Linked DNA regions of Homo sapiens: region 2 is linked to region 1. Evidence: fine-mapped expression QTL. A gene starts in region 1. The other region holds a variant in brackets. All regions are shown on one strand. Distances are from middle to middle. Region 1 holds the start of PPAN (peter pan homolog). Region 2 has its middle 14 kb from the start of DNMT1.

Region 1 (5,372 bases):
CACTAGTGACAAGGATTAGGAGCTAGGACTCAGGAGCCAGATGAAATTAAAAATCCAGTCCTGCCCCCTGGAATCTAAACTTAGCATCTCTGCCAGCCTCAGATTTGCTTTTTTTTTTTTTTTTGAGACAGTGTCTCGCTTTGTCACCCAGGATGGAGTAGAGTGGCGTGAACACAACTCACTGCAGCCTTGACCTCCTGGGCTCAGGTGATCCTCCCACCTCAGCCTCCCCAGTAGCTGGTACTACAGGCATGCACCGCCACACCGGGCTTTTTAAAAATCTACTTTTTGTAGACATGGGGTCTCGCTATGTTGCACAGGCTGATCTCAAAGTCTTGGCTTCAAGCGATCCTCCCACCTCGCCCTCCCAAAGTACTGGGATTACAGGCCGAAGCCATAGCACTGGGCCCGCAGCTTCCCTCTGTAAAACAGGGCCCTAAGAAGAGATGCTACGATCCTGCTCAGCCCAGCACTCAACACACGTGGGAAACAGAGCTCCATCAGTATTTCTTTCCACCGGCTGGAAAAGGTGCAGCTCACGGGGTGTGGACCGCTGGGGGAATCTCTGGACACTTTTGCCCAGCATCATCAGACACAGGAGTGGGATTTGACCTCAGGACTCAGCAGACCCAGGAGCTCCCAGTCTCAGCGCTGGGAGGAGTGAGCAATCCATCTGAGGGCCTGTGGCACCTCTATCCGCTGCACCCCCCCATACCTGCCACCTCGCCAGGCCAGACCCACCTTGTGCACGTTGATGGAGGGGAACAGGTTCTGGAACATGGTGGCCATGAGCTTCACATGCATACCATGGGGGCCAAAGCTGTTGAGTACCAGGAGGGGTGGGTGGGCAAACTGCTGCTCGTGCATGCGGTGCCGGCGCAGTGAGGAGACCACATCACGCACCAGCGAGTACTGTAGGACAGGAGAGAGGAGGGGGTGACCACCAACCACACATGGCTGCGGACAACCCCAAGTCCAGCTCCCACCCCACATGGCTTTGTACCACCTCCACCCCTCTCACCTTCTTGACCTGGAAGGTCAAGGTGGGGCCTCCTGGGAGGCGCATCAGCTTCTGCAGGAGAAGAAAAGATCAGTGACTCTGGAGGGGTCTAGCAGAGGTGCCCGGAGTAGGCACCTTTGCCCCATCTCTTCTTCAGAGCGTTTACTTTGAAGCCAGAAATCACAGCAGCTCAGAGGCATATGTGTTCATCATGAGAGATAGGGGAAGGGGGGGTCTGGGGGAGATGAAGGGTGAGGGCGTCTACTCACAAAGTAGACATTGGTCTCTGTTTTGCTCAGGATCAGAAAGTGTGTGACCCCGAGGGGCCCAGCCACTGCCACGCAGTCCTTCAGCGAGTTCTTCTTACGAACCTGGAAATGACAAAAAGAAAAAAAGAAAACATAGCTTATCCCTTGTTGTGACAACTATAAGCTGACGGTGCAGATCCTGTTATGGTCTGTCTTGCATCTGACCCTTTCAACAAGCCCAGAGGAGCAAAAGGATCTTAGCCTTTAGAGTCAGTCGGACGCAGATTTGAGTTCTAACTCTGTCTCTTGCTCACAGCGCATCTTCCCATTGACAAATGAGCGAACTCAGGCCCAGAGAGGTTAAGTAACTTGCATCAGATACTGGGGAGAAGTCAGTTTCCAACCCTGCTTTGCTGCCTCCAGATTCTAGTCTTTTTTTTTCTAACACGGTCTCCTCCGGTCGCCCAGACTGGAGTGAAGTGGCACGATCCCGATTCACTACAGCCTTAATTTCCTGGGCTCAAGGAATCCTCCCACCTCAGCCTCCCGAGTAGCCGGGACTACAGGCACGCAACACCATATCCGACTAATTTTTCTATTTTTTGTAAAGACGGGGTTTCACCATGCTGCTCAGGCTGGTCTCGAATTCCTGGGCTCAAGTGATCCTCCCGCATCAGCATCCCCAAATGCTGGGAATACAGGCATGAGCCACCACGCCCGGCTCCAGATTCCAGTCTTAACTGTCAGGCTTAGGCGACTATCTATCTCCCAAGCTGCGCGCCCTCACTCCAGCCCAGCAAAAGCCCTGAAAGGCAGAAATGATGCTCCCCATGAGGGTCTTTTTTTCCAGCTGGGGAGACTTAAGTCCTCCCACAGTTTTACAGCGGGAGCCATTACTGCAGCTACGAAGACTAGGCCGAGGGTGGGTGGAGGCGGGCTGGGGGTGGGGTACAAACCTGCAGACGGCTGGCAGTGAGCGGCTCCATGACCCGCCGCACGTCCAGGCTGAGCTGCCGGATGTTGCGACCCGTGCAGCCTCGCGTGAACACGAACGAGTGCGGGTTCGCGGCATAGGCCTCGAGGTTGCGGAGCTGCGCCTGGGCGCGGGCGCGCTTCTGGTGCCGGGACTGCGGCGACGAGAGACAAAGGGTCAGCGCCGCGACCTCGGCCGGGACCCCACCTGCGCCACCTGCCTCCCAAGCTGCCGGGCCTTACCCTCCCTGACTGTCCCATGCTGCTGTGTCCTCCACGAGGCCTCCTGCGTCCGCCGCTTCCGGCGCTGCGCAGCTCACTTCCGGCGCCTGAGAGCCGGCACGGCGTGGGACGACATCAGGCGGGCCTGCGCACTAGGTGGCCTCTGGGAGCGGGGAGGGGCAATCAGATGGAGCGGTTGCTATGGAGACACGGGTGCCTGTTTCTAGGGAGACCGGGGCGGGGCTACGCGGCTCCGGGCTGCAGAGAAACGAATCCGCCGGTTCGAATCCCGCTTCGGCCCATTTCCTCCAGCTGGGCTAAAACCACTTTCTGCATTCCGAGGCTCCTAAAATATCCCAAAGTAAGGCTGATAATGTCCCCCGGGCCCACGAATTAGGAGCGACCATGTATGCACAATGTTGGGCGCTCTGGCGCCAAGTACTTGGGGAGAAGCCACCGGAGGGAATGACTGTGGCAATCATTCACTTTAGTCTCGCAACTCCTCTGGGCCAGCTGTCCTCCCCGGGTACCCCTGTCTGCAGACAGGCTGAGGGATGGAAACTCCACATCACCTTCTGGAAACTCAGGGCAAGGCGGGCGTTTCGTGAATAACTCGCCCCCTCCTTCTTTCCGCTCAAAGCCTCAGTCTTGGCCTCAGGCCTCTGGCTTCTTCCCCAAAACCTTGCAGTGGGGGAAAGGGACACCCCCTCACTGGGCTGAACATTACTCTCTCCTCCCCCATCGGCCTCCTCTCCCTCCTTGCTCTCTCTGGCACCCCAATTCTTCCTCCTCTCCCCCAGATGTGTCTCCCCTCCCCCTCGTCTTCCCCCTGTCTCTTTCTCCCTCTTGTAACTTTGTCTCTGTCATCAGTTGTCTCTTTCATCATTTATAACTGAAGATGGAAACTAAAGAAGTTTCCTTTCTCTGTGTCTGGCCCCATCCCTGTTTCTTTCTTCTCATCTGCCTCCCTGTGGTCTCTCCCCATCTTCCCATCTCTCTCTGTCTCTCCCCATCTCCCCGTCTCTCCCTTTCTCTGCCATCTCCCTATGTCTCTCCCATCTCCCTATGCCTCTCCCATCTCCATCTGTCTGACTCTCTGTATTCTTCAGCCCCTCTCTGTGACTTATGAAGTTCCCTCCCTCTCTACTGCCAATGGGGAAGCCAGAGGGGGCTGAGGGTGGGGGGCCGAGGGGCCCAGTGTGGGGGCCCCAACCCAGGCCCAGAGCCCAGCCTGGCAGCCTCTCTCAGATCTGGGACGACCATTTCCTTTTTCAACCCTGGAGTCCACTCGAGTTACTCGGGAGCTCAGGATGGTGCAGACCAGGGGAAGGAGGTGACTCTCCCGGCGTGTGGCTGGTCGTCGGTGGGGCCTTTGGACAGGTCTCAGACCCTGGGCCTGGGCTCTGTGGGGCTCTATGTGAGTTTCTTTGTACCCCTGGGAAATGACTGCATGGTTACTTCCCCCAGTTCCGTCCTCGTGTGATTTGACTTGTGTGAAAATGTGACCGAGTGTGTGGGAGACAGACGGTGACCTCTGTGGTGCGGTGGATAGGTTTCCGGGTGTCAACTGTGTGTACCTGTTTTGTATCTGTGCACTACTGTGTGATCACAAGAACCAGGATGTGGACAAGCCTGACACACAGATAAAGACCCACTCAGCCCACCCCATTTCCCTTTAAGTTGTGATGTGTGTGTGACCATATTTGGAACATACAGTTGTTGCCTGAAACTGTTATGTTTCCAGCTGTGTCTTTTTAAAAATTTTTTTTAATCAATGAGATATCCTTTATTTATGAAAGCATAGTTCCAATGCAGAAGTCAAGCTTTATGGTTATATATTAGGATAGGTTCAGATCCAATATGACAATGTTTAGCACTAACTTTAACATGTTAAAGCTCTGATTCCTGAATGTTTTTCTCACTTAATATATTCTCTCCAATGACAAGCTGGTGTGCTTGGCTTCTTATGCTGAAAAATATATGCCTGAATTCTATAACAAGCTATTAACAAAATCATGAATAGTTAATTAAATAAGTGCCAACACTACATGGAACTTACTGGCCACCAACTCAGAACCATAAAACTACACACACACACACACACACACACACACACCACACACACAAACAAAACAAAAAAAACACCAAAGAAAGATAGCTATCACTGTACATATGAATACTGTCCAGGATATCAGATCAATTATCAAATCCAAGGTCTCTGGTGTTTTGTCTCACAGTGTTGAATATATGAATGCTTCTCTATTATACTGACTTGTATTATTTTCAACAAATAATTATGTGGACTCAAAATCTTACATTTTTATTTCTTTTCTTTTTTTTTTTTTTTTTTTTGAGACAGAGTCTTACTCTGTCGCCCAGGCTGGAGTGCAGTGGCTCACTGCAACCTCCGCCCCCCGGGTTCAAGCGATTCTCCTGCCTCAGCCTCCTGAGTAGCTGGGATTACAGGCATGGGCCACCACACCCGGCAAATTTTTGTATTTTTAGTAGAGACGGGGTTTCACCATCTTGGCCAGGCTGGTCTCGAATTGCTGACCTCGTGATCTGCCCACCTTGGCCTCCCAAAGTGCTGGGATTACAGGCGTGAGCCACCGCGCCCAGCCTTACATTTTTATTTCTAATTATAAAATCCAGATTAATCCAAAAAACATAAATCACATGTAACTGAGGTAGGGTTTTCACTTTAAGAATATATTGTTTCTATCACAATTTAAAAATTTACAGCTGTGTCTTTTATATTTATTTTTTATTTTAATTAATTAATTCCTCACTTTATTATTATTTATTTATTATTTATTTATTTATTTATTTATTTATTTTTGAGATGGAATTTCAGTCTTGTCGCCCAGGCTGGAGTGCATGCGGTTGCTCGATCTCGGCTTACTGCAACCTCCACCTCCTGGCTTCAAGCA
Region 2 (5,372 bases), 100 kb before region 1:
ACAAACAAACAAACAAACAAACAAAAAACCTACAAACGGTTTCTAAACCGTCTCTCCATCCTCATATCTAGCCATTTTTTCCCATTTGTCTACAAAGCTGACATACTTGCCCAAAATTCAGACACCCAATACCACCACCTTCCCCCTTTTTTTGGACAGATTTAACTATTCTCGGATAAGAAATTCAAAGAAAGCAATACCACCACCCTTCCTTGAATGTCTTATCCAAGAATAGACAAATCTGTCCAAAAAAAGGGAAATGAAGTGGGTCGGATGTGATTCATTGTTGTCGGCAATTGTGGTGGCATAACTGTTAAAAGTGCATACTATCAAGTTAGGAAAAGCAGATTTGAATCTCACATCCCACACTCAACAACCCAAGTAGCTTTTGGGGATGGCACATGACAACTGTCAGCTGGCCTCATCTATAAAATGAGTATGTTACTTTATTTTTTTTGAGATGGAGTCTCACTCTGTCTCCCAGGCTGGAGTGCAGTGGCACGATCTTGGCTCACTGCAACCTCCGCCTCCCAGGTTCAAGTGATTCTCCTGCCTCAGCCTCCCCAGGAGCTGCGATTACAGGTGCCCACCACCACGTCCAGCTAATTTTTGTATCTTTAGTAGAGACGGGGTTTCATCATGTAGCCAGGCTGGTCTCAAACTCCTGGCTTCAAGTGATCTACCTGCCTCGTGATCCACCCGCCTTGGCCTCCCAAAGTGCTGAGATTACAGGCGTGAGCCACTGCACTCAGCTCATTACTTTTAATAGCAAAGATCGCAATTACCTTTGCACCAACTAATGATCCCCAACTTGCAGATTGCTTTTGGAGAATCAGCTGTGGTTAATTGGTGGTCTTTTCCAGGAAGGAGTCTCCTCACGTGACATCCCTCTGGCTTAATTTAAGGCCAGGGCAGGCCTAGCTTTTATTCCTGCTCACCGCAGTGTAGACAGGGAAACTTTCTTTGCAGTTCAGGAGCAGACGCTGTGTATTTTCACGTCATTCTCCAGGAGGTGGGCAAGTCTCTGGCCTGTAACTGGCATTTTTTCTCTAGGGCTTGTGGCTTTCATGGACAATGGCCATGTCATGGACCCTGGCAGGCAGAAGGAGGCTGGGAAGAGTTGAGGGAGGAAGGCAGGGTGTAAGTGGCCTGGAAGGAAAAAAGGAAGCCTAAGTTTGAAGTGGGTGAGAAAAATGAAGATAAGTGCCTTGGTAATTTCTATAATCAGAATTACACAGTATGTACCCTCCTATGACTGGTTTCTTTCATACAGCATAAGGTTTTTGAAATTCACTTTTTTTGTTTGTCTGTTTTTTCTAAGATAGGGTCTTGCTCTGTTGCCCAGGCTGGAGTACAGTGGCATAATCATAGCTCACTGCAGCCTTTATCTCCAGGGCTCAAGCGATCCTCCCACCTCAGCTTCCCGAGTAGCTGAGACCACAGGCTTGTGCCACCATGCCCAGCTAACTTAAATTTTGATTTTTTTTATTTTTTGCTGGGCGCAGTGGCTCATGTCTGTAATCTCAACTCTTTGGGATTACAAAAAAAGAAAAAAATTAGCTGGGTGTGGTGGTGCATGCCTGTAGTCTCAGCTACTACTTGGGAGCCTGAGGCAGGGGGATTGCTTGAGCCTGGGAGGTTGAGGCTGCAGTGAGCTATGATCACATCACTACACACCAGCCTGGGTGACACAGCAAGACCCTGCCTCTAAAAAAGAAAGTTTATGACCCTTGTGTATAATATTCCATGTGAATAAGTAACTATTTATCTGTTCTATTATTGTTCATGTAGTCTTCAGCTTTTGGCTATTGTGAGTAAACTATTATGAACATTCCTTGTTCATGTCAATTGGTAGATATATACACTCATTCCAGGCATGGGATTGGTGGGTCCTGGGCAGCAGTAGACTTGGCTTTAGCAAATGTTGCCAAATCATTTTCCAAAGCGGCTATACCATTTGAGACTTCCTCCAGCAGCATAGAAGAGTTCTGGTTTTGCCAATACTTGAAAAAAATTTTTTTTTCATTTGTGTGTGTGCGTGTGAGGGTGATATTGTATTGCAGATTGAGTTTGCATTTCCCTGATGACTAATGAAGTTGAGCAGCTTCCCACGTTAGCCTTGGCCATCTGGGCATCCTCTTTTGTGAAGTGCCTATTTAGCTCTTTTAGCCACTTGGTAAAAAAGTGATTGTCATTAAGTTGAAGGAGTTCTATATGTATTATAGGTATGAGTCTTTTGTCAGACGTATGTCTGTGGCTTTTATTTTTTTGTTTGAGATGGAGTCTTGCTCTCTCACCCAGGCTGGAGTGCAGTGGCGCGATCTCGGCTCACTGCAACCTCCGCCTCCTGGGTTAAGCAATTCTGCCTCAGCCTCCCAAGTATCTGGGATTACTGGTGCCCACTACTGCGCCTGGCTAACTTTTGTATTTTTAGTAGAGGCAGGGTTTCACCATGTTGGCCAGGATGGTCTCAAGCTCTTGACATCATGATCCACCCGCCTCGACCTCCCAAAGTGCTGTGATTACAGGCGTGAGCCACCGTGCCCGGCTGTCTGTGGCTTCCTTTTTAATGGCATCTTTTGATGAACCAAAACTCATTTTCAGCTGGGCATGGTGGCTCACACTTGTTATCCCAGCACTTTGGAAGGCCAAGGTGGAAGGGTCACTTGAGGCCAGGAGGTCAAGACCTGCCTGGGCAACATAGTAAGACCCTGTGTCGACCAAAAAAAAAAAAAAATTAGCCAGGTGTGGTGGTGCATACCTATAGCCCCAGCTACTAGCTACTCTGGAGGCTGAGGTGAGAGGATCACTTGAGCCCAGGAGTCCAACATTGCAGTAAGCTGTGATTGCACCACTACACTCCAACCTGGGAGACAGACCCTGTCTCAAAAAAAAAAAAAAAA[AC/C]CCAAAAACTCATTTTCATAGAGTCCAGCATATTTTCTTTTATTAATGTGCTTTGTGTCCTGCCGAAGAAACACTTGCTTGTCCACAAGTCACATAGATGTTCTGTGTTTTATTTCAAAAGCTTTCCTGACTTTGCTTTCGTATTTAGATATGTGATGTGTCTGAGTTGTCTTTTTTTTTTTGAGACAGGGTCTTACTCTGTCACCCAGGTGGGAGCACAGTGGTGTGATCATGGCTCATTGCAGCCTCAACCTCTTTGGGCTCAGGTGATCCTTCCACCTCAGCCTCCAGAGTAGCTGGGACTACAGGTGCCTGCCATCATGTCCAGCTAATTTTTTTTTTTGAGAGGGAGTTTTGCTTTTGTTGCCCAGGCTGGAGTGCAATGGCGTGATCTCAGCTCACTGCAACCTCTGCCTCCCAGGTTCAAGCGATTCTCTTACCTCAGCCTCCCAAGTAGCTGGGATTACAGGCATGTGCCACCATGCCTGGCTGATTTTGTATTTTTAGTAGAGAAGGGGTTTCACCATGTTGGTCAGGCTGGTCTTGAACTCCTGACCTCAGGCGATCCACCCAGCCTAATTTTTGTATTTTTTTTTGCAGAGATGAGTCTTGTCATGTTGCTCAGGCTGGCCTTGAATTCCTATACTCAAGCAAATCCACCTGCCTCGGCCTCCCAGATTGCTGGGATTACAGGTGTGAGCCACTGCCCAGCCTGTTGGTAATTTTGATGGATATTTGTAAACTGAGCATTTAATGTGGGAAGAACAGGCTTCGTACCCTCTCTCATCTGTGTAGGGCTCCATAACACTTTATTGGGTGCTAACTACATCCTGGGTGCTTTGCTACACACTGGGCATCGGTGGGGGTATGGCTGATGTAAATCTCAAAATATATGATCAACAGCTGGGGTAAAGGCTCTGAAAGAAAGGGCCTGACTTCTAAAAGACCATGGAACAAAGACCTGAAAGGGCTAGGGGAGGTCAGGAAAGGCTCCTTGAAGGAGGTCATGGTTGAGCCACAATAGGGAGAATAATTGTAGATTATCCAAGCAGGAGAACTGGGCGTGTAGAATAGGACTTTCCAAGCTAAGGAAACAGCACATGCAGAAGCCTTGCAATACATATCTATGGCTGCATTAACAACAAGCCTCAAACCCCAGTGGCTCAGAACAACACCCATGCATTATATCCTGTGGTTTCTGTGGGCTGGGAATTTGGGAGCAGCTCTGTTAGGCGTCTCTCATGAGGTTACAGTCACATATCATCTGTGGTTCCACCCATCTGCAGGTCTGATGGGGGCTGGAGTGCAGCTACTTCCAATATGGCTCACTCACCTGGCTGATAAATTGGTTTCTCTTCCTATGGGCCTCCCTGCAGGGCTGTTTGAGCATCCTTACAATATGGCGGCTGGTTTCCTGGGGAACACAAGGTGGTGCTGCAATGCCTTTTATGATCTAGCCTTGGAAGTCACTCACCTTCTCTTGGCCACATAAACTGGCCCTGACTATGGAAGAAGGCTTGGCAGGGCATGAATACCAAGAGGCAAGAGACATTGAGGGCCTTCTTGGAGGCTGGCCACCACATGTCTTAGGCAGAAAGAGGCTGGAACTGTCCATGATGTGGCTCAAGTGGAGTGGGTTAATAGGTGGGCAGCAGGAGCTGAAAGGACAAGACAGGGCTGGGCACTGAGGCCTTGTGGGCTGCAGCGGAGAAGGTAGGGTTGGGTTTACCCTAAGAGCCCTGAGAAGCCATTCAGGGGATTCGGTGAGGTAGGGAGGAGCTAACATGATCAGATTTGGGTTCTGATGAACTTCTTCCGTGGTGAATGGATGGTGAGGGGGCCAAGTAGCAGCCCAGGAATGAGGCTGGGCAGGCATCCAGCAGAAAGGTGAGGGTGACCTGGGCCAGGGGCCCAGGAGGGGCAGATCAGCTGACTCAAGGGCTCTTTGAAGGAAAAACCCACAGGGCTTGGCAGCAAGCCTCTTGTGATCCCCAACAGAGAGCTGTCTGCCTGCTCAAAGGCCCCACGAGGAGTAGGCGGCTCTACCCAGCACACGCTATGGGACTTGGGTTTCTGCAGATCTGATTCCTAGCTTAGGCAAGTCGAGCCTGGAGAGAGTGCTTCTGAGGCCCTTCCAGGGTAAGGGTGGTAAAGTGTCCCCATTGTTACTGAGTGCTGCTGTTCCTGCCCAGGGCCTCTGATGGGCCTGGCACTGAGCACGGTGTCTGGGATGACTCACCTTCAGCCTTCTGACTGACCGTAGCTCAGGACACGTGGCCAGCTCTCCACCAGCCTTCGTGCTCTGGGCTGCCTGGACCTCGGTTAGACTGGTCTCTGGGCCTCTCCTGGCCTCCCTGGAATGTGGCCTGGGAAGCAAGGAGCTATGGCCTGGCAGATCTTTCCTTTTCATTTACATTTTTTCTTTTTGGTGGGGACAGAGTCTTGTTCTGTCACCCAGGGTGGAGTGC

The links. PIP is the estimated chance that this variant, and not a neighbour inherited with it, causes the effect.
Region 2: its variant is the best candidate, but not a certain one, in a credible set for the expression of PPAN in whole blood (INTERVAL, PIP 0.62).

The regions. Positions count from the first base shown.
Region 1 is chr19:10,103,504-10,108,875 of GRCh38, reverse strand. It overlaps PPAN (peter pan homolog), which reads right to left and starts at 2,514. Exons shown (of 12, transcript NM_020230.7): 1 at 2,464-2,514; 2 at 2,205-2,375; 3 at 1,270-1,371; 4 at 1,022-1,072; 5 at 742-912. The coding sequence starts at 2,481. PPAN-P2RY11 (PPAN-P2RY11 readthrough) reads right to left here and starts at 2,514. Exons shown (of 13, transcript NM_001198690.2): 1 at 2,464-2,514; 2 at 2,205-2,375; 3 at 1,270-1,371; 4 at 1,022-1,072; 5 at 742-912. The coding sequence starts at 2,481. SNORD105 (small nucleolar RNA, C/D box 105) reads right to left here and starts at 1,225; the gene lies at 1,141-1,225. It also overlaps a transcript of ANGPTL6 not described here. RefSeq lists enhancers at 302-945, 2,588-2,637, 2,234-2,877 and a silencer at 2,318-2,367.
Region 2 is chr19:10,206,202-10,211,573 of GRCh38, reverse strand. No RefSeq gene overlaps it. Among named protein-coding and RNA genes, the nearest start is that of DNMT1, 14 kb to the right of the region's middle. The variant AC/C (reference allele first, on the strand shown) is at 2,904.